Linked DNA regions of Homo sapiens: region 1 is linked to region 2. Evidence: fine-mapped expression QTL. A gene starts in region 2. The other region holds a variant in brackets. All regions are shown on one strand. Distances are between the middles of the regions.

What was found. PIP is the estimated chance that this variant, and not a neighbour inherited with it, causes the effect.
Region 1: its variant is fine-mapped to the expression of ELP3 in blood mononuclear cells (TOPMed, PIP above 0.99).

Annotation. Positions count from the first base shown.
Region 1 is chr8:28,136,264-28,144,263 of GRCh38, forward strand. It overlaps ELP3 (elongator acetyltransferase complex subunit 3), which reads left to right. Exons shown (of 15, transcript NM_018091.6): 10 at 1,435-1,628. Among named protein-coding and RNA genes, the nearest start is that of ELP3, 47 kb to the left of the region's middle. The variant GA/G (reference allele first, on the strand shown) is at 3,252.
Region 2 is chr8:28,080,855-28,097,282 of GRCh38, forward strand. ELP3 (elongator acetyltransferase complex subunit 3) reads left to right here and starts at 12,285. Exons shown (of 15, transcript NM_018091.6): 1 at 12,285-12,379; 2 at 16,365-16,428. The coding sequence starts at 12,361. NUGGC (nuclear GTPase, germinal center associated) reads right to left here and starts at 3,082. Exons shown (of 19, transcript NM_001010906.2): 1 at 2,921-3,082. RefSeq lists enhancers at 11,866-12,419, 11,911-11,960.

The sequences.
Region 1 (8,000 bases), 51 kb after region 2:
TGTTACTTTAGTGTGGTTTTGGAGGGAAAGAAAATAAACACTTTTTTAAATTCTCTAGTGTAACTGAAAATTGAGAACCAATCAATTTTCATTCTTTCCAAAGGAATGTATCAGCCTGTATGTCTCCGAAACTTATTATACAAGCACCAGAAATACTTTTCTAAATCCCATGTTCAAATGTAGATTCAGACTGGGTGAACAATGGCTTCCATACGTGCTCTTTGTGGGATGGCTGCAGAATATTTATTAAAGACCTGATGATTCTTTAAAATATAAATGTTACAGGAAAATCACACAATTACAGAAGAAGATCTCTGAAACTAAATAGTACATAAAGAATACAGCATTTAAGAACGTGACAGATGTCAATGAGAGATGGAAAAGTCTATTGTTATATTTCTTTGTAAAGCAAGTTAAACAATGAAGAGCTTTGGAAGACTAATGTGGCAAAGATAAAAAGTATTTTTCCAGTTTACAAGATAGAGCCCTGCCAGCTGAGTAGATACTCCCACCAAGGTGGGAGTGAGAGGGGACTGTGAGTCCACTTTCATTTCTCCAAAATATATTATGCAAAACAAGATTAGAGCAAATTATCAGTGCAAAGTCATGGAAAGGAGAATGCCTGGTGTCTCATTGCTACATCCCAAAATAAAGAAAGAAAGCAGCCAGCTGGGGTGATGTAGTATAAGAAATGACTTGCCAAAAGTAGTTGAGTTAGATCTATTGCTCAGTGTCCAGATAACAAATGGACAAGGTGTAGCCCAGGATAGGAATGGTGCCAGTTGGTTTAGGGACAGAGTAGTCATATCCAGGGATCAGCAAACTTTTCCTCTAAAGGGCCCTATAGTAAACATTTTAAATTTTGTAAGCTAGATGATCTCTGTCACAACTTTTGAAATGTAAGCAATTAAGTATATTCCATTATTAAAGAAAGGTATACTCTAGAGGTGAAGGCAGACATTGAATAGATTGTCATGTGATGATAAGAAAGAGGTAATACTGGGTTCAGTGGGATTTTTTTTAAGTGGGACAGCTAGTATTTGAAAGTCAGAGGGGCCTCTCTGAAGAAGTGGCATTCAAACTGAAACCTGAAGATTAGCTAGATAAAGAAAAATTGATGAACTTTCCAGGCAAAGGAAATTGCCTTTGCAGGAGTGGAAAGGCCAGATGGTGAGGGGTGGCATGAGATGAGATTGTGCAGGAGACAAGCTGGAATGGTGAGGGCCTAGTGCAGTCCAGCACACACTTGCTTTGCCCCAGTGAGACTACAGAAACAAGGAGTTTCTGTTCTGTCTGTACGCCCTACCTGGTCAGAAGCAAAGGCTGCCCCAGGGCCTACTGGGTGTGCCAGAGAAGCTGTCAGGGGTTGAGATTTCACCCTCGGTGATCTCTGCATAACTAATGGAGAAGTCATTTTCTGTTCTCTATTCACAGGAGTTTTTTGAGAACCCTGCTTTTCGTCCCGATGGGCTGAAACTCTATCCTACCCTGGTGATTCGTGGGACCGGGCTTTATGAGCTTTGGAAATCAGGAAGATATAAGAGTTACTCTCCTAGTGACCTGGTTGAATTGGTGGCTCGGATCCTAGCCCTCGTGCCTCCATGGACTCGAGTGTACCGAGTACAGAGGTAGTGTGTTATCTTTTATTCCTAAAATAGTTGGTGACTAGTCTGTTTACTATTTCTCATGGAAATAGTCTGATTTCATATTGAGGGTTTTGGATTTTTCTTAATGGAAATAAGATAACTGGAATGCTATCTGTAAATAGGGAGGGATGGAAATCATAGCATGTCTAAGCCACTTTGCCAATAACGTATTTATTTATCTACCCATTCATTCATGAGCCTGGAGACAGAGCCATGACGGTCAATAGGCATGGTGCTTGCTTCCGAGCAGCTTATGGTCTAGTTCAGTGTTTCCTCTTCCAGGTCTGCTTCCATCTAGATGCAGTAATGGGTATGAGCATAAGAAGTGTGGCCGTGTGTGCAATCTCTGTTCTAGAGCCTCTGAAAGAAAAAGTAGCAACAATCACTCTTTACAGATATTAATGTAAATGTGGAGGAAAGGTGACATATTTCTGATGGCTTGAAGAAAACAAAATAATCTGAACTGCTTTCTTCCTAGAAAAGAGAAAGTAAGATCTCATTTACAATCAGGAACCTTATCTACCTATTTATACTTACATACATACATACATATATACTGGAAACATAACATCACAGAAAAATTTTAGAAGCCATAAAGTTACCCGTATACCTACAATCCTAACAAAGCCAATTCCCACACACACATTCCCACCACCCTGCCAAAAACTACCCAGGTTCCAATATTACAAATGCAAGGCCAGAAGGAGACTGCAAATGCATTACAATCAGCTGCTAGAGCAGGACTCCACTGAGCACAGAAACTGTGTGACTGATCATGTAAAGCAATGAACACTGAAAACAAGCCGAATTAACTACTTAAGGAGAATTATGAAGGATATAAAGTAACTGACTTGCTTGAAGGTCAAAGGACATTTACATGATACTTCTGCTGCATACTGATTTCTCAGTTTTAAAATCATTGGCCAAACTGCAGGATCTGAATTGCCTATATGGTCTCTATTTTTAAAAATACACCTAAGAATACTAAGGAGATTTTAATAGAAAAATCAACTGTTGAAATTGCTTGTGTGGCCCTTCCCCTTGTTGTTCAACCCTTCTGAAGCAATTCAGTCCAAAGGACATTAGGTGGTGCGGAGCAGTGTAGGTATCCACATGCAGGAGGCAGGGAGCCACAGGGTCCAGAGCAGGGTGAGAAGGTCACTCATTCACATGCAGGAGGCAGAGGCGTGGTGCAGGCTGATGAAGTCAGAATGTGGCGAAAAGGGCATTCATTCCCACCAAGGGCAGATCTGGTACAGGATGTCAGAGCTGTACGTCCTCTAGGGGTGGGTTGGGGGTATATGCAGAAGAGGAGACAGCAAGAAAAGACCAGTTACTTACAGGGAGTTGATCTAATCAGCAGATATATTAAGGATACTGGGTGCTAGGTTTTTTTTGTTATCTTAGAAGTCAATTACAAAAGTTGAAAAAGGAGAAAATTAGTGTGAGCACTGTGGTGTTTTGGAACAGGAGATAGTGGTGTGAACTCATGGTTTCCAACATATAGGTACATGTAGAAATAAGTGTAAATGTAATGAATAACAACACAGGTGGCCCTTCATATCTTCGGATTCTGCATTCTACAAATTCAACCAACTGCAGATG[GA/G]AAATATTCAGAAAAAACAGTGGGTGGTTATTGCATCTGTACTGAACATGTATAGATTTTTTTTTCTTGTCATTACTCCCTAAACAATACAGTATAACAACTAGTTATAGTACTTACAGTGTATTAGATATCAATAAATAATCTAGAGGCCAGGCGTGGTGGCTCACGCCTGCAATCCCAGCATTTTGGGAGGCCGAAGTGGGCGGATTACCTGAGGTCAGGAGTTCGAGACCAGCCTGGCCAACATGGTGAAACCCTGTCTCTACTAAAAATACAAAAAATGGCCAGACGTGGTGGCAGGTGCCTGTAATCCCAGCTACTCAGGAGGCTGAGGCAGGAGAATCACTTGAACCTGGGAGGCGGAGGTTGCAGTGAGCAGAGATCATGCCATTGCATTCCAACCTGGGTGACAAAAGTGAAACTCCATCTCAAAAAAAAGTAATCTAGAGGTGATTTAAAGTATACAGGAGGATGTGCATAGGTTATATGCAAATACTACACCATTTTATATGAGGGACTTGAGCATCCATGGATTTTGGTGTCTTTGGGAGTCCTAGAACCAATCCCCTTTGGATACCGAGGGACAACTGTACATATTTTGTGTGTGTGTGTGTGTGTGTGTGTGTGTGTGTGTGTGTGTTTTATAGCAATCAGTGTACTTAGTTTCCAGTGAGCACAGCTGGTTTCTAGATCTTGGTCTCTAAATGCTCTCCATTACTAAAAGGAACCTCTTGTGCCAGAAAGTAAGGAAGTATTCAAAGAAGAAAAGGGAATCTGGCTTAAAGGGCTCCCATTGGCCAAATCTGGGACAATTTGAGCATCAAAATAAATATTGATATTAACAGATTATAACCAGCTGAATAAAATAGGAATCCACTAGTTTATACCAATATTCCTAATTAATAAATTGTAAGTGTGATTCAGAAACATAATATTTGCAGTCAGTCTTCATCATTCTCAGATTCCTTATTTGCAAATTTTCCTACTCACTAAAATTCGTTTGTGACTCAAATCCAATACTGGCATTTTCACAGTCATTCTTGGGCATGCTTAGCAGTGAAAAATTTGAGTTGCCCAGCATTGTCACCAGCTGAGGTCAAACAGGTGGTGCTCTGCCTTCTCATTTCAGCGCTCACACTGGGAGCCAATGTCCTTCTTGCAGTCTGTTTCATGCCATGTTTTTCAAAGTTTTGTGCAGTTTTTTGAGGATTCGCCATTTAGTATGGCCCCCAAGCATAGTACTGAAGTGCTGGCTATTGCTCCTGAGTGCAGGAAGGCTGTGACGTGCCTTCTGGAGAGAATACATGTTATGTAAGCTTTGTTCAGGCATGAGTGATGTGCCATTGGCCATGAGTTCAGTGTTCATGAATCAACAATATATATCAGATAAGGTGTGTTTAAACAGAAACACACATAAAACAAGGTTATGTATTAAACAGTCGACAAAAATATTGTGACCAGGGCCTCACGGGAACCTAACCTTGTATTTTCCCTAAGAGCAATTACTCAGTATACAGTGTAAGTGTGTTGGTGACACTCGGTGTAGAATGTTAACTACTTATTGCCTGCTAACAGAACTAGAACCAACTACCGACTGTACATAGTTGCAGAGTATCTCCCCCACCATACTTAGCAATTGCAGAGTGAAAGAGAATAACCTAATAGTGGGAAAACCTGGCAGCTGATCAAAGTGAACATTATCAGTAATAGGACAAATCACAATTCTAGGCTGCCTGATAGAGGGTATGAGAACGTAGCATCACTTCTCTGTTACTCAGCCAGAACTTCACGATCTGAATCCAATAGTCAGGAGACGTTAGACAAAACAAAATTGAGAAACATTCTAAAACATAACTGGCCCGTAATCTTCAAAAGTATCAGGATGAAGAAAAGAGTTCTAACTTGAAGGAGACTACACAGACATGACAATTAAATACAATGTTCTGAACTGGGTCCTTTGGCTGTAAAGGACTTTAATGGGACACTGGTGAAACTCAAATGGGGTCTAGGATTAGACACTAGTGAAGCATCCATGTTAACTTCCTCATTTTGATGGTTCTTTTGTGGTTATGTAAGAGAATATCCTCGTAGGAAATATTTAAAGTATTCTCAGGGCGTTGGGACATCTTATTTGCAAATTAACTTTCAAATAGTTCAGGAAAATAATTATTTGTACTGCACTTGGGACTTTTTATGTAACTTTGTGATTGTTTCAAAATCTAAACTAATACACTAGACAACAAAGCTGCAGTAAATAGCATTCACAGAGACAAAAGAAAAAGACGATTTGCATGTATAACTGACTCAAGCAACCAGAAAGCAGTAAAGATGCAGCTTCTCAGCCGCAGAGCATGGCAACAGATAGCACAAAATAGTTAGCAATTTCACATCCAGAAATACCGAAAGTAACAAGGCATGGATCCCACAGGCAATCAGATGAAGAATTTGCATTTTCTCCCTTCGTTTTCGGCTTAAATTTCTTTCTGCTGTAACCAGTGAGTCAAAAGCAGCAGAGACATTGCTATACTATTAAATGCTTAATTTTATAGACTTTTAAATACCACTATGCGACATTATCCTGGCCTACCAACAACTGAGAAAATAAGGACTTGAAGAAAACAAGGGCAGCAGAAATAGTCTCTATAGGAAAAATGTAAAGGAGTGATGACAGGAAGAGTGGAGAACACTTATATGATACAACCGAAAGGTCATATGATAAGAAAGGCATGACATTATTAATAAGCAACATATGAGGCCTGTTAAGGAAACCTGGCTGTTCTCAGTTCTTCTGATATGACCCCGTTACACTTATCCTATGGAGAATTGGCCCATAGGAGAGTCCACAAGCTCTAATTTCAGGAGGCCCAACTGTCACATATGTTTCTCTATCAATACATCACTTATGGAGCTTGTGAGTGAGGAGTGGTACAGGTGGATGTAGGCTTAAGATTTCGAAGTGACACTCTTACTTCACACATAGGTGGGTGGATTAAAATGTAATGGAATACTGTAAAACAAGAGGCAGTGGTGCAATCTCTTTCAAAATGTGGAATTAGTAATGTCCTCGATGAGTCTGAGGACAGTTTATTTTTTGAAGATAGTGATGACTCAGTTCCTAACACAGTAAGGCCATTGGTGAAGAGAGTCATCCAGAGTCTAGCTGTGATGTCAGGTTTTTATGCTTTAGGATTGATAATGTAGTTAACTGTGAATATGATCATTTGCTAGATTTTTTAGTACAAAGACTAATATGTTCATAGTATTTTCCATTTTGTTTTCTTATTTTTTATGTAGTTTTGGTGCTTTTAACTATGATATTTGTTGTCACACACGTTTCTGTTAGAATTCATTTTTTTTTTAACGTACCTTACTGTGGACTGAGGTTCAGTAAAGCATTTACTTTTTTGTAAGCATGAGGAGAATTCCTTGAGATGCATTATGTTACTTTATGTTTTGCATTGAGTGTTACTAAACTATTACTCTGACTGCCTGCGTAAGAACTCATTCATATTTATTATATTTTGCTACTTCCTTTTTACTCATTTCTTTGTATATACCACATTGAAAAATGATTCAGATTTATTTTATATTGGAACTTGCTTTTTATTCTTAACAGCCACTGAAATCACTGAAATTTTAGACTAGGCATATGCAGTGCTGAGGTAGCTTATGAGATTTCACGTTCTAGTCAATGTATTACATCTTGTGTTTCTGCTGTGTAGCACCACTCCCATGATCTCATACACTTCTTTTTTGATCATGTGATTTTATACTCCCCCCCAACAGTCTGTAGAATATTACTAATTATCCAGAACTTATGTTTCTTCCTGATTTCTAGCCATAAAATATTCTATTTACATGAGCAAAATAATGTTTTCTCTGTAAAACTACTAAACCACTTTCAATATATGTATTAATAACAAGTTAACATTATTTTTCCAAAAATTTCCTTACAAAGTTGGAGTGCATCTTTACGTATCAGTATATTTTATACACTAGCAAATTTGCTGTTAGCACTTTCATGTTCCATTTCCTAAGGATTTAGAATAATCTTCATGGTTATAAACTTAATGGCAGCATAGTACTCTGCAATTTTAATTTGTCTTTTTTAGTAAACTGTTCGCCTTGTTAGAAATTTAGGTCGCTTCCAGGTTTCTTTGCTTTCTTCTTCCTTTTTTAAATGTAATTATCCTGGCCTCCACTACAGCTAAACTTCATAGAACTTTCTACTGCTGTTGAAGTAATCTCTTAGAGTAGTATAATCTGGGAGAAGGATTACGCATGGTAAAGGGTCTAAGCATCTTTTCATTATTATTATACTTCTTAAATCCTTTCTGGAACAAGGGGAAAATAAATAAATGTTACAGTTTTTGCTATGAATATTGATATGGCTTTCCAAAGGGATTATACCAGTTTAAAGTAAACATTTACTGGTTTTATCACAACCTCTATAGAATTGGGTGCTTTATAGTATTTTTATTTTATTTAATTAAGGGTATTAATTTGCATTTCCCTAGTTTCCCTTGTAACTGATTATTATTTGTGTTTCTTCTTACATCAGTTGTATGTTTATATTTAATTTGCCAGTCATGAAATTTGGATTATAAATATTGTCTTTTTATTGAGAAAGCTCAGAAAAAGTTCATAAATGTTGCCTCATTTTGAATTCTTTCCTCTCACCCAAACGAATAGGAGACTAGGGAACCAAGAGGCCACATTCATGTTCGTATAGGACACTTAGCACATAA
Region 2 (16,428 bases):
TCCAGATGTGAATGGTGGAGCAAAAATTATTAGGGATTTGGAGTCAGAATGCCTGGATTTTTGCTCCTGCTCCCAATCTTCAATGCAACACAGAGCAAATCACCTGATCTCTCTGAGCCTCTATTTCTCCACATATAGGATAGAATTGGTTTTAAAAAAAATACCTGTATCAAGAATTCATTGGCCAGGCATGGTGGCTCATGCCTGTAATTCTAGCACCTTGGGAGGCCAAGGTGGGCCGATCACTTGAGGTCAGGAGTTCGAGACCAGCCTGGTCAACATGGTGAAACCCTGTCTCTACTAAAAATACAAAAATTACCTGGGCATGGTGCAGCATGCCTGTAATTCCAGCTGCTTGGGAGACTGAGGCAGGAGAGTCACTTGAAGCCAGGAAACAGAGGTTGCAGTGAGTTGAGATCGCACCACTGCACTCCAGCCTGGGCAACAGAGCGAGACTCCACGTCAAAAAAATAAAAAATAAAAAAGAGTTCGTTGTGAGAATTAAATGTGATAATGAATGCAAAATTGCTCTGCAGGCACTTATGCATCTGTACAAATGTTATTTTTTGAATATTTTATGAAGGTAGTTAAACTAGAAATCAGTACTAGTGTCATCCAGGCCACGTCTGTTAGTCTTTGGGGAACAGATGCCACCTTAGCTGAGATTCTGACTCCCGTTCTTGTCCCTATTGATCAAACACATTGAGGATGCTCTACCATCTTCCTTAAAGAATCTTCGATCAGCTGGGTGCAGTGGATCACACCTGTAATCCCAACATTTTGGGAGGCTGAGCCGGGCAGATCATGAGGTCAGGAGTTTGAGACCATCCTGGCTAACTCGGTGAAACTCTGTCTCTACTAAAAATACAAAAAATTAGCCAGCCGTTGTGGCACATGCCTGTAGTCCCAGCTACTCAGGAGGCTAAGGCAGAGGAATCGCTTGAACCCGGGAGGCGGAGGTTGCAGTGAGCTGAGATCATGCCACTGCACTCCAGCCTGGGCAACAGAGTGAGACTCCATCTCAAAAAAAAAAAAAACAATCTTTGGTCAAGTTTTTTCTTGCTCTCACAAGAAGGTGAGCTGAAGAATGAAAGAAGGAAGAGGAGGAGACTGTTAATGAAATGATAGAATGTTGATGAAATTTAGAATTTATTTCCTTTCTCTTTGAGTTTGGGTTTAGGTTTAAGTAACTTTGGTGTTGGCAACATTTCCTAACCACCTCGTTGGCCACTGCACTGCTCTTCCAAACTAGGGATGTCCCAAGGCAGCAATTTAAACACATTAGCTCAGAAGCAAAAGTGAAACAAGGGCCTCCAAATCTCTAAAGGAAAAGAGGTATGTTTTCAGCATTAACACATCGGCTAATGTGTTCAGAATTAGAAATGTGGCCACCAGAAGCAGTCGTAGTAGAAGGGAGGCTTTAGGATGACATGTTTTTCTCCATCTTTCTTCCCTAGGTAAAGAGGTAAGCAAAATAAGCAGATATTTTCATAACGTACTTTAGCAGATTCTAGCGAAACGAATTTGAATCTTCTCATATTGCTCTCCCAAGCTTGTTAAAGCTAATGAGGCATAAGATGACACTTCCCTCCTTATCAGGAATTCATACACCTGCCAGCAATTTCTGCAATAGCTGTTTTCTTTTGGGAGGAATGATTAATGACTTGCCTAAGATCACACTGTTCTGTAAAATTCAAACTAAAACCTGATTCTCCCCATTTCTAGCCCACTGGCCTTTTTACATAGCCTTAAAATTCACTTAAACAGCCTGAGCATGGTGGCTCATGCCTGTAATCCCAGCACTTTGGGAGGCTGAGAGGAGAGGGGATCCCTTGGGCCCAGGAGCTTGAGACCAGCCTTGGCAACAAAGTGAGACCCTCATCTCTACAATTTTTTTTTTAATTAGCTGGGCATGGCAGCATGTATCTGTAGTCCCAGTTATTCAGGAGGCTGAGGCAGGAGGATTACTTGAGCCCAGAAGGTGAAGATTACAGTGAGCCATGTTCATACCACTGCACTCCAGCCTGGGTAACAGACCGAAGCCTCAAAAACAAACAAACCAAACCCCCAAAATTCACTTAAGCAAACAGAAAAGTAAAATTCACTTTCCCTCAAGAAATAACTTGCTTTAAGAAAATCAAAGGAGAGAGAAGAGACAAATGTCCCATATACAGAAGAATTCCAAATAATTTACGTAGCTACTCCATCCTCAAGGAGGTAGAATAAAACTCCCTGCTCCTTAAGTGTGTGCTGTGCATAGCAGCTTCTTTCCAAAGAGAACACGGCGGAGATTGGAGCAGGGAAAGGATCACCTTATAGCAGAGAAACCAGACAAGCGCTGCCTCTACCAGGTGGTCAAGGTCAACACCAACAGTCCTAAATCATGTTGACAATATTATCCCTTGATATGATGTGATGAGAACAGCACTTTAACTCTGGGACTCCTTCCCCAAAACCCATAACTCCAGTCTAATAATGAGAAAAACATCAGACAAATGCCAATAGGAGAAGCCTACAAAATACCCAACCAGTACTCCTCAAAACTGCCATATTCATCAAAAACAAGGAAAGTCTGAGAAACAACGCTACAGCTAAGAGGAGCCTAAGGGAACATAACTAAATATAATGTGCTATCCTGATAGGATGCCACAGTAGAAAGCAGACGTTAGATAAAAACCAAGAATCTGAATCAAGCACAGACTTTAGTTTAAGAATAACGTATCAGTATCGGTTCATCAGTTGTAACAAATGTACCACACTAATACAAGATAATGGGGAAGTTGGGTGGGAATTACATGGGAATGCTCTAAACTATCTTCTCAATATTCCTGTAAACTCAAAACTGTTCTAAAAATTAAGGTCCATTTTTAAAAAATCAACCACAAGTTACAGTACAAATTACATAAAAGAAACAACTTACCAGATGTCACTGAACAGAAAAAAAAAAAAAAAGTTCTGGTTTGGTTACAGGAGTCCACAGAGGAGATGGTGGCAGCTTCTCCTTGGTTCAGGTATTTGGAACCAGCTGGGGTACGTAGCCCTTTGGGCCACAATCACAAAGCCACGTTTACACAGCAGAAGTGAAACCAACTTGCCATCAGGGAGCTATTTACCATGGTCTCCTCCCACAGATACTGATTTATTCTGTCTTCTTTCACTTAAATCTAAATTCACCAGGCACGGTGGCTCACTCCTGTAATCCCAGCACTTTGGGAGGCTGAGGCAGGCAGATCACTTGAGGTCAGGAGTACAACAGCAGCCTGGCCAACATGGTGAAACCTTGACTCTACTAAAAATACAAAAAAAAAAAAAAAATCAGCCAGGCGTGGTGGCAGAACCCTGTAGTCCCAGCTACTCAGGAGGCTGAAGCAAGAGAATCACTTGAGCCTGGGAGGTGGAGGTTGCAGTGAGCCAAGATCGCGCCACTGCACTCCAACCTGGATGATGGAGCAAGACTACATCTCGAAAAAAAAAAAAATCTAAATGGTACATGAAACGGGGATCTTGCACCCTTCTCTGCCATGTTCCTACAAGTAGACAGATGTCTTTTTTCCTTTCCAAGTGCATCACTGCATCCTTCCACAGCATCTTTTCTCTGAGGGTGAACAATATTCAGATGACTGGTTCACTGGAGCAGACAGGAAAAATGCCCCAGTTCCAAGACAGACAAAGCACTGGCTCCCCGACACCCAACTATAAGACATGACTGGGAGAGATGGAGGATATGAGATAATAAATATAAAGTTATTCTTGACCCAAAGTCTTAAAATTCACCAAAAATAACATTTGCCAAAAATAAAACAACATTGGATTGTTTGAGTGTAGAAATGAGTGATATACCGCTTTACACCTCTTTCTGGAACTTAAATTTTAAATCCGTATATTTTTATGTCTTTATTTAGTTAGAGACAAGGTCTTGCTCTGTCACCCAGCCTGGAGTGCAGTGGCGTGATCATAGCTCACAGCAGCCTCGACCTCCCAGGCTCAAGCCATCCTCCCACCTCAGCCTCCTGGGTAGCTGGGACCATGGTCATGCTCCATCACGCCCATCTAATTTTAAATTCATATTTTTAATAAACCCAGAAAACAAAAATTTGAAAGTGCTGTCCAGGAGAGAAGAAAATAAAACCCACTCCACTTTGCTGTGTCTGGCAACCCAAACCATCACATCACATACAGGGAAAAAGTTGTCCCTTGAACCCTCAGCTTCAGGGTGTGTGTTACCTTTTTTTTTTTTTTGTGAGACACAGTCTTGCTCTGTCACCCAGGCTAGAGTGCAGTGGCGCCGTCTCAGCTCACTGCAACCTCCGTCTTCCGGGTTCAAGAGATTTTCCTGCCTCAGCCTCCTGAGTAGCTGGGACTACAGGGGTGCGTCACCATGCCTGACTTTTTTTTTTTTTAATTTTAGTAGAGACAGGGTTTCACCATGTTTGCCAGGCTGGTCTCGAACTCCTGATCTCATATGATCCGCCCACCTTGGCCTCCCAAAGTGCTGGGATTACAGGTATGAGCTACTGTGCTGGGCCAAGGGTGTATGTTACCTTTAAAGGCCAACTCAGTCATTACCAAGACAACCCTCAGTACTCTAGGTATGTATTTAGTCTGAAGAGGGGATTCAGAAGGTAAAGAGGTCAGAACAGGGAAAGAATTGAAGATAAATGTTTAGACTGTGGTCTTAAAAACTGCTTTGAACTTTTGGCAAGATGACGTCCCTCCTCCATAAGAAAACCACAGAAACACCAGGCTAAAGTTCAGAACAAAGAAAGTCAGCACAAATGCCATCCTGGATGCTGAGTCTTATACTGATCTCTCTAGGCAAAATCACACCTTACGCTTACATTCATGTCACGTGTGCTCAGCTCTCCCTCTACTGGCTATTTCTTAGCTTCAACAGTTAACCACAAATGCTACTAAATTACTTAATTATTAAAATTAATTTTGAGCATTTTTAAAGCTTCCTGGGGCAAGGCCCAGTGGCTCACACCTGTGATCCCTGCATTTTGGGAGGCCGAGGTGGACAGATCACCTGAAGTCAGGAGCTTGAGACCAGCCTAGCCAACATGGTGAAACCCTGTCTCTACTAAAAATACAAAATCTAGCCGGTCATGGCAGTGTGTGCCTGTAGTCCCAGCTACTCAGGAGGCTGAGGCAGGAGAATTGCTTGAACATGGGAGGCAGAGGTTGCAGTGAGCCAAGATCAGGCCACTGCACTCCAGCCTGGGCGACAAAGGGAGACTCCATCTCAAAAAATAAAAAAATAAAGCTTCCTGAGTTCCTTTATTTGTTTGCTTGTTTTTGTTTGTTTGTTTTAGACAGGGTCTCACTCTGTCACCCAGGCTGAAGTGTAGTGGCGTTATCACGGCTCACTGCAACCTCAACCTCCTGGGCTCAAGTGATCCTCCCACCTCAGCCTCCCAAGCAGCTGGGACTACAGGCATGTGCCACCACACTTAGCTTAAAAAAACAAAAAACAAAAAAAGAAAAACAAAAACAAAACAAAACTTTAGTAGAGATGAGGTCTCCTTATGTTACCCAGGCTGAACTCAAACTCCTGAGCTCAAGCGATCCTCCCATCTTGGCCTCCCAAAGTGTTGGGATTACAGGTGTAAGCCACTGGGTCCAGCCTCTGGGGTTCTTTATGGTAGTCCTTGGCACCTGCTATTGGACGCCTGAATGCTAGGCCTGTTAGATGTTTCTCCATTCTCTCAGGCTGAATTTCCATTGAGCTCACTGAAAACACTGAAGCAATGAGACCGTCCACAGAGCCTCATCATCACCCCCAACCACCTATCCGGTGCTCTGCCCTCCAGCCTGTTGCTAGATGAACTATCCATGCACCCATTAAAGGCCAATCCCTTCTCTGTGCACCAGATTCCATCCCTCTCTCTAACTGAAGAACCATGTAGAGTACTTCCTCCTCTTCTCTAATTCACCAAACTTTCACTCTCCACTGGATTATTCCCATCTGTGAACAGATTTGATGTCATTCATTCCACCTTAACAAACACTCCCTGGACCTCCATTTCCCTGCCAGGTATTAGTATATTTCTCTGCACTTCTTTATGACAAAACTCCTAGGCTGGGCATGGTGTCAGCACTTTGGGAGGCTGAGGCAGGAGGATCACTTGAACCCAGGAGTTCAAGACCAGTCTGGGCAACATAAGGAAACCCCTGTTTCTACAAAAAATAAAAATAAAAATTAGCCAGGCATGGTGGTGCATGCCTATAGTCCCAGCTACTTGAGGGGCTGAGATGGAAGGATCACTTGAGCCTGGGAGGTCGAGGCTGCAGTGAGCTGTGATTGTACCACTGCACTCCAGCCTGGGTGACAGAGCAAGACCCTGTCTCCAAAAAAACAAACAAAACCCCACAACTCCTCAAAAGAGTTGTCTCTACTTACTGTCTCAAATTCCTTTCCTCTCAAGCTAATATAAACCTATTCCAGTCAAGCCTTCACCCTTCCCATCCCATTAAAGCTGTTCTTGTCAAAGTCCACAATGATCCTGGTCAATTTTCAACCTTTATCTTTCTTGAGCCATCAGGAGCATTTGACCTGGTTGATCATTCCCTCCTGTTTGACAAACCTCCTACACTTGGCTTTCAGATAACCACTCCCCTAGTTTTCATCCCATCTCCCTGGAAGTGCTCCTCAGTCTCCTTCACTGGTTATTCCCTCGCTTCTCAACCTGTTAATAATAAAATACCCCAAGGCTTCATCTTCGGTCTCTTTCCTTTCCACAGCCACCCTGTTTCGTAGCTTTCAATTTCGTTCACATACCGATGGCTCTCGACTGATATCCAGTGTCAACCTCTTTCGTGTCTTCCTGTTCACTAGTCATCCGAAAATACAAGTTCAAACCAATCCCCGCCAGTCCCTTGAAACACCTCTCCACCTAATTTTCTCCATTTCATCTAATGATAACTACATTTTTCCAGTCCCTTGGTCAAAAAGCTTTGGTGTCACATTTGATGTTGCTGTCTGCCTTTCATATTCCACATCTGATCTGTCAAAAAGTCTTGTTGAAATCTTCAAATTATATTCAGAATCTGAACACTTCTCACCACCTTCACTGCTGACTACCCCGATTTGAGTCTCAATAATCTCTGGCCTCATTCAGTGGTTCCTAAGTTTTGCTGCACGTTGGAATAACCCAGGATCTTTTAAACATGCTAATGCCTGACTCCCACCCCTTGATATTCTGATTTAATAGGTGTGGGATGTAATCTGGGCACTGGGAATTTTTCACTGCTCTCCAGGTGATTCCAATTGCAGCAAAGTTTGGGAATCATTGGCCTGGCTATGGTAACCGCCACCCACCTGATCTCCCCACTTCCACACCAACCCCCTCCCACAGTCTATTCTCAATGCAGCAAATAGACATGCTTTTAAATTACAGATCAGATCCATTCAATTCTCTGCTAAAAACACCAGTGGCTCCCCATCTCAATTAGGGTAAAAGCCAAAGGCTTTTCAATGGCCCACAAGGTGTTACATGAGCTGCACTGCCCCCTGTCCCATGCGCCACTCCTCTGACCTCTCTTTCACATTGCCTCACCCACTGCTCCCGTGATGTCAGCCTCCTCAGTCTCCTTGAACACCCCAGACATCCTCTCACCTAGGACTTTTTTTCTTTTTTGAGATGGAGTCTCGCTCTGTCACCAGGCTAGAGTGCAGTGGTGTGAGATCTAGGCTCACTGCAACTGCCACCTCCCAATTCTCCTGCCTCAGCCTCCCGCGTAGCTGGGAGTGCAGGCGCGTGCCACCATGCCCAGCTAATTTTTGTATTTTCAGTAGAGACAGGGTTTCACCATGTTGGCCAGGATGGTCTTGATCTCTTGACCTTGTGATCTGCCTGCCTCAGCCTCCCAAAGTGCTGGGATTACAGGCGTGAGCCACTGCGCCTGACCTTCACCTAGGACCTTTGCACTAACCATTATCTTAGCCAGAAATACTCTTTCCCACATATCTACACATCAAGTATTAGCTCAAATATCACATTGTCAATAAGGCCTACTGTAACCCCTATTTAAAATTATACCTTTAACCACCTATCTCCCTCCCCTCTCTGAGATAAAACAGGGAAGAGGTAGAGGATGGTGCCATTAGATAAGGAAGAGCAGATCTGGAGTAATAATAGAGTTCTGTTTGGGACATGTTAAGTTTGAGATGCCTATTAGACACCCAAATCTAACAAGATATCAAATAGGGGAAAAGTTGGGGTTGGACTGGAAACCTGGGAGCAAACACGTGGTGCTCTGGGGATCACCTTGGAGAGACAAGGCTGAGTGACCCCCATGGAACACTAGTATTCTGAGGTGAGGCAGAGACAGAGTTCACAAAAGAAAGAGAAGAGAAACCAAGAGAGTTGGAGGGCCCTGTCATAAAAGATGTTCATGGAAGAGTTGACAAAAAGAGTCAAACTCTGTAAAATACTTGAAGAGATTTATTCTGAGCCATGATTGACCAACTGAGGCAAGACAGGCAAGCTCCAAAATTGGGGCTTTGCCTGGGAGGGTTCTTGGCTTTGCCCAGGAAACAATTCAAGGGTGAGCTGATGGTGTTAAATAGCAACTTGCATTGAAGCAGCAGTGCACAGCTGCAGCAGAGGGACTGCTCCTTGCCGAGCAGGGCTACTCACAGGCAGTGCCCAGAAGAGCAGCTCAGAGGCAGTTCTGCAGTCATATTTATACCCACTTTTAACTGTATTCAAATTAAGGGGCAATTTACGCAGAAATGTCAAGAATGAGGATGGTAACTTCCAGGTCATCAGGTCATTGCCATGGAAAGGGGAGGGTAATGTTCAGGTGTTGCCACGGCAATAGTAAACTGACATGGCATACTGGTGGGCATCTTATGGAAAGTTGCTTCCACCCCTGCCCTGTTTCAGCTAGTCCTCAACTTGATCCAGTGTCCAAACTCTGCCTCCAGAACAGAGTCCCACTTCCTACCTCACATGGTCTGTGACAGAGCCCCAGGGGATCCTGAGAACATGTGTCCAAGGTGGTCAGGTTACAGCTTGATTTTATACATTTTAGGGAGTTATAAGACATTACTACATGTAAGATGTATATTGGTTTGGTCCAGCATGGAGGAAAAGTTAAATATTAAATCTGAATTCAATTGAACCTGGACACAAACAATAGTCACCAAGTCCTGGAACAAGTTTTGTGAGTCCCTTGAGGCTTTCATCCAGCGCTGTTTCAGAGAAATCTCTATTTCAATCTATTCCTATACATTAGTTATTGAAAAACAATAGACAATAGCAAAAACAAGTTGACCTTTTTGTGTTCCTTGAGCCTGGTTGTGAAGGGCCCTTGTGACTGGGCCTCATGCCAAACAACTTGTTACAAAAAGAGCTAGGGTCCCAGGCCCAGCCGAAGCTTCAGGAGACCTATCCTCATCTGTGCAAGGAGGAGTGGCCAACTCTGGAGCCCAGGCTGTTGCTTCCTGGTCTGGTGGTGAATCCTCCATAGTCTGGTGAGTGTAGTGCCCAACTCTGGAGCCCAGGATGTTGCTTCCCGGTCTGGTGGTGAATCCTCCATAGTCTGGTGAGTGTAGTGTCCAAGTCTGGAACCCAGGCTGTTGCTTCTTGGTCTTGTGATAAATCCTCCATAGTCTGATGGGTGGGTGTGTGTGTGTGTGTGTGTGTGTGTGTGTGTGTATACACATATACTTTCCCTTCTACCCTTCCCATTGCAATTTGCTTATTATATCTGCATTGCCATTTACATGGGATAAAGGTCGTTTACCCTTAAAGGTATTGTGTATGTGTCTTTTCTTCTCCCCTCACGCATATCCCACAGAGAACAACCAGAAAGGTGGGACAACTCAAAGCATTGATGTGGGGTCAGGGGGCAACACTTTCAGGTCACAGGCAGATTCAGTTTTCTCTGACTGGCAATTGGTTGAAAGAGTTATTATCTATAGACCTGAAATGAACAGAAAGGAATGTCTGGGTTAAGACACAGAGTTGTGGAGACTAAGGTTTTATCATGCAGAGGAAGCCTCCAGGTAGCAGGCTTCAGAGAGAATAGATTGTAAATGTTTCCTTTTTTTTTTTTTTTTTTTTGAGCCGGAGTCTCACTGTGTCGCCCAGGCTGGAGTGCAGTGGTGCAATCTCGGCTCACTGCAAGCTCTGCCTCCCGGGTTCACGCCATTCTCCTGCCTCAGCCTCCCAAGTAGCTGGGACTACAGGGGCCCACCACCACGCCCGGCTAATTTTTTGTATTTTTAGTGGAGACGGGGTTTCATCATGTTAGCCAGGATGGTCTTGATCTCCTGACCTTGTGATCCGCCCACCTCGGCCTCCCAAAGTGCTGGGATTACAGGCATGAGCCACCGCGCCCGGCCGTAAATGTTTCTTATCAGACTTTAAGAGTCGGTTCTGTGCTCTATCAGCCTTAAGGTCTCTGTGTTGATGTTAACACTGGTTAGCAGCTCCTGAATTCTAAAAAGGAGGAGGGAATAAGGAGGCATGTCCAACCCCACTTCCCATCATGGCCTGAGCTAGTTTTTCAGTTTAACTTTGGAATGCCCTGGGCTGAGAATTATTTTCGGTTTACAGAGGAGAACTTATGTTCATTGGTATAGGATGACAATGAGGTCAGACAAATACCACTGAACTTGGCAGGCTGGGAAGTTACAAAGCTTAGCAAGGCCAGTTTCAGTGTCATAGTGGGGTCAAAGCCTCGTTGTTGCCTCAATTCTAGTAGGGTACATATTCCTGTCTTTATTAATGGGAGAGGTTCTTAATCTCCAGCCCATGGACAAAGGAGATCATAGATGGGTTTCAGGAAAACATCCCAAGTCCTGCCTCCAAATTTTGCAAAATTTTGTGCCTGTGTATTTTTCTGGAGAACGTAAACCAAACAGTGTCTGAGACAGGTCTCAGTCTGGAGGTTTATTCTGCCAAGGTTGAGGACACACCCAGGAAAAAGAGACATAAGTTATCATGGAATCTGTGGCCTGTGGTTTTTCCAAAGAGGGTTTTGAGGACTTCAATATTTAAAGGGAAAGAGCAGACAGAAGGGGAAAGAGGAACAACTATGCATTCATTTCACACTCAGTAAATCTGCCTTTTACAGAAGACAAAGTAAACATAGAGGAAGGAGTCAAATATGCATTTTTCTTGGGGTGGACTGAAGGGTGATTTCTAGTCTTGTCCTTGTCCCCTACCTACTGTAAATTTGCATGGTCAGGGTGGAATTCAACAGAAGTGTTGTAAGGTAAAGACTCTGCCACTCACAAGGAATTTCCCTGTGAGCAACTCCTCTGGGAGGCCACCTAGGGAGATATGTGGGCTTCTGTCTTTGCAGCTGTTTAGGAACAGAAGGAAGGCAGTTTTTGCGTGACTCAGTTCACAAGCTTAACTTTTTGTTGTTGTTGTTGTTGTTGAGACAGGGTCTCGCTCTGTCGTCTAGGCTGGACAACAGAGAATGATCTCCACTCACTGCAACCTCCACTTCCGGGTTCAAGAGATTCTCCTGCCTTAGCCTCCCAAGTAGCTGGGATTACAGGCGTGCACCACCACGCCTGGCTAATTTTTGTATTTTTAGTAGAGACAGGGTTTCACCATGTTGACCAGGGTGGTCTTGAATGCCAGACCTCAGATGATCTGCTGGCCTTGGCCTCCTGAGATGGGCATAGTGCTAGTATTACATGTGTGAGCCACTGCGCCCGGCCCTAAGCTTAACTTTTTTCTTTGGCAGAGTTTAGGGTCCCGAGATGTTATTTTCCTTCCACAAGAGACATCCACAGCTTTCACGATGGTTACCGATCATATGTGCCATTCATCTAAGACCAAGGTGACCACCTGGTCCCAAAGCCTGCACCTCGGATTCTTACTCGATTCCCGCCTGGTCTCTTCCAGGCCCTCAGTTAGTTTCCACAACATGGGAGGGTTCCTCCTCCGTGGTCTCGCCCATTCGCGTTCCCACCCACCCTCCCCGGATGTGACGACCCTGGGCTCCCACTCCCCCCCATGAGAGACCATCCACTTCCACCCTTTCACTTAGGCTTCCTGGCGCAGCCTCTATCCAGGAACTCTGTCCCATAGCTGTACTGCCCAGGTCGAGCTTTCTAACCCCAAGATGCCACTCCGTTCAGACGTTCCCATCCTCCATCCCTGAGACCCGGGGCAGGATCGCAGCCTAGGGGCCTCACGGGCCGCCTGCTACCCTGTTAGTTGCAACACGGGGCGGGGCGTGGCTTTGTGCACGTCGGCTTCCGGGAAGAGCTTTACGATACATTGACCGACATTTTACGACAGGCGGGATTGTTTTGTGGCTGTCAGCTTTCCCCGTGGTCTGAGTTTGTGGCTGCATTTTTATCTCTGGTGGCTCTGCTACGGCGGCGCAGAAATGAGGCAGAAGCGGAAAGGTGCGAAAGGGGAAGGAGATGGGGGAAAGGGGTGGTCCGAAAGGGGCGAACGCCCAGGCAATCAAATGCTGAACCGAACTTTTACCGCGAGAATCCGCTACCCAGTCCAGTCGCCCCGCCACCTAGGGTCAGTGTGTCCATTCTGGTCCCCGAGCCTTCTCGTTTTTCCTGTTTTGCTTTTTGAAGCACCCTACCCTTCCTCTCTTCCTCTTTGGCAGTCACGTGGTGTCTTGTTTGAATGGCAGGGAAACCATTATTCCAATATATGCCCTCCGAGGAGTTAACGTCGATTTAACGGGTTGTAGGACTTTTCATTTGTTAAGATTTGTTTCACGACACATTTGACGTGTTAGAGAGTTTCTTTTAAAGCCTTATTTTAAGATATTAAAAAAACCTTAATTATCCTTGGATTCAGTGTAAGAGTTGTGCATGCAATTATTCCCATTTTTATTACATCATGAGTTAGCAATGAACAATTCCACCTTTGGTTTTTCAACAGGACGGATTCAAATTTGAAATATTCTCTCACAGGTTCTGTTCCTATTTCTGTATCTCACAGGTTCTGTTCCTATTTCATTTGACCAGCTGGTCTAATCATGGTAATTGTTGTCAGAATAATAGCTACCATTTATTGAGCTTGTATTTTGAAGTCGGTATCATTTCCATTTTACAGATGAAGAAGCTGAGATTCAAAGAGTTAAGTAACTTTCCCAGACCAAAATTATACTTAGATATGGAGCTGGCTGGTCAGGCTGTATCTGTGACCTCAAAAAACATAAAATGAAAAATAAATACATCGTTAATCCCTATGCTTCTTGACATTAACTGTTATTTTTCTTTCTTCCAAGCAACAATTCTAAGTGTCCAAGTTACCTTAGATTAAGTCTTGTCATATTTGCATGCCCTAAATTAATTTGTTATCTCACTCTAACTTGCTCCTTCTCAATCTACCAGGATTCTTTTAGTTTCTTCTGTCACCAAGTCATGTTGATTCTTACTTAGAAATTACTTCTTGATATAGTTTATTCCTCTTCATTCTGGCCGCCAACCTCCTAACCCACCTTCATCACTAACTAATATTTGAATGGTATTTCAGCTTTCATATACATTATTTATTTGAGTCTTAGAATGGTTTTGTGAAATTTGGATGTATTACCCCAATTTTACAGACAAGGAAATGGGCACTCAAAAGTTGTTGATCTTGGCCAGGCGCGGTGGCTCATGCCGGTAATCCCAGCACTTTGGGAGGCCAAGGCGGGTGGATCACTTGAGGTCAGGAATTGGAGACCAGCCTGACCAACGTGGTGAAACCCTGTCTCTACTAAAAACACAAAAATTAGCCGGGCGTGGTGGCAGGTGCCTGTAATCTAATCCCAGCTACTTGGGAGGCTGAGGCTGAGGCTGAGGCAGAGGCGGGAGAATCACTTGAACCTGGGAGGTGGAGGTTGCAGTGAGCCGAGATCGCACCACTGCACTCCAGCCTGGGTGACCGAGCAAGACTCTGTCTCAAAAAGAAAAAGAAAAAGAAAAAAAATTGTCGATCTTTTCCGTTACCACACAGCCAGTAGGCATTGGGACTGGATCCTGTCTTAGATTTTGTGGGTTTTTTAAAACAATGTTGCCTTTCAAGAGCCATTTGAGTAGTATCCATATTATATGTATTCTTTTTCACTTTCTGAATCATTCTTTGTACCGATAATATTCTTACCTTCCTTAAACGTTACTTTCAACTTTTTATTTCCAAAGTTGAGAATATGCAATTCTTCACTGTCTGTTGCATTCCATTTCAATGCCTTTGCCTAGTGGCCAGGGTCCCCTGTAATCTGTTCTTTATTACACCCTGTTAGAAAGCTGGATTTTAGTTAGGCTGTGCTGTTTCACACAAAGATAGGTAATTCCTATGCCTGACATTATTTCTTCTGGATTGCCTTCTGTTTTGCATGTCCAAATCTTGCCCTATCTTTAAAGATCCCTGTGCCATTTCCTTCATGAAGTCTTTTCCTACTCATTTACTCTTCCAGTTCTTGATACACTCAAGAGCTATACAAGTGGTTTCCAAATCTTATCTGTTCTTATCAGCCGATCCCCTTTTACCCTCCAAATAAATTCTTACACAGAACCTCAATATATAAACAGCTGAAAGCAGAGCTGCTGTGGTGGAAATAAAGAGACCTCCTCCTTTTTTTCCTCCATGCCTTATTTTCCTCTTCCCTTCTCCCTTCCTCTGCCATGACCACCACCAGTCCTACCTCTGTTGCATGGCCCCTGAGGCACCTTTGTAGAACTCTGGAAGTGCTGAGTTACATGGTTTGGAAAGCATTTAGCCTTTGAGTATAGATGGACTTTATTTCTCTCAAAAATTGTTGTGTATATGTTAGCCTTGCCTCATTAAATTAGATGCAGTGTGTTACAGTGAAAAAAGCATGGAAGTTGTGGTGAAAAGAGCTGGATTTGAGTCTTGGCTCTGCTGTTTACGATAGCTTGTTAACTTGCCTTAGCCTCATTTTTCACATCTATAAAATGGGATAACAGTACCTACCCTCCGTGTTACTGTAAGGGTTCAAATGAGATAAAGTAAATGTGTGGGCTCCATAATTGCCAGGGCCTTCCATCCACGCTTTCATTATGTTTTAGCTTTCTCTGCAGTGTGAGTCCTCAGCCCCCTGGGCCACGGACCAGTACCGGTTCATGGCCTGTTAGGAGCTGAGCCAGACAGAAGAAGGTGAGCAGCAGGCGAGCAAGTGAAGCTTCATCAGTATTTGCAGCCACTTCCCATCACTCATGTTACTGCCTAAGCTCTGCCTCCTGTCACATCAGCAGTGGCATTAGATTCTCAAAGGAGTCTGAACCCTGTTGTGAACCGTGCATGTGGTGGGTCTAGGTTGTGTGCTCCTTATGAGAATCTAATGCCTGATGATCTGTCACTGTCTCCCATCACCCCCAGATGGGAGTGTCTAGTTGCAGGAAAACAAGCTCAGGGTTCCCACTGATTCTATGGGAACAGAATTCGTTATGGTGAATTGTATAATTATTTCATTACATATAACAATGCAGTAATAAAAATAAAGTGCACAATAAATGTAATGCACTTGAATCATCCTAAAACCACCCTGCTCCCCTGGTCTGTGGAAAAATCATCTTCCATAAAACCAGTTCCTTTTATCAAAAAGGTTGGGAACCACTGCTCTACAGGTGAGAAGCTTGCTTGCTGACAGCTTCCAAGCTGATATCCCACAGCTTTTGTCCCTGGAAAAAGACTGGCATTTTTTACCTTGAAGAAAAGAGCTCAGATTGGCCTGGCTTAGAGATATGCCCATCCTTGAACCAATCCTTGAACTGTGCTTGAGTGGATGGCGTCATACAAGAACCTGTCAGCTTCTGCTGTTGCCTTTGGATGAGACCGAGAGCCCCAGTTGCCAGAAGTTCATGATGGTGGACAGACAATATTTTAGAAATGCATTAAGATTCTTAGGCAGATACCTGGGTTTGAGTTTCAACTTTACTCCTTGATAGCATCTTCATGTAACAGGCACATATTCTTGTTCTGTCTACCTCTGTTCTGAGAATTACCTGAATTCATGCATCTAAATGTTCTTTATGAACTCTAAAGTATTATGCACATATTAGTAATTACACCTCTGGAGATAAAGGGAAGAGAATTACTTTGGTCCTTTCCTGTGTGATTAAGTTCTTTCTCCTCACATTGTTTCTACTCCTGTATCCTTTCCTGTATTTATTTTTAATAATCTCATAGAGTATGTGCTTCTAAAGGGAGCTTTTCCCATATATATGTAAAGCCACGTTTGTTTTAAAGATACAAAAGATATGATCAAATTGTAAACAGTAGAGATTTAGCATCTTCTGAACTTGAGCTATTCATTTGGCATATTTGTATGGTTTCGGATGGAAAACTGCTACTAAATCAGATTTTAAAATCTTGATTGAATGATACGATTTTTGACATTGTTGAATATTAACTTTCCAGGAGATCTCAGCCCTGCTGAGCTGATGATGCTGACTATAGGAGATGTTATTAAACAACTGATTGA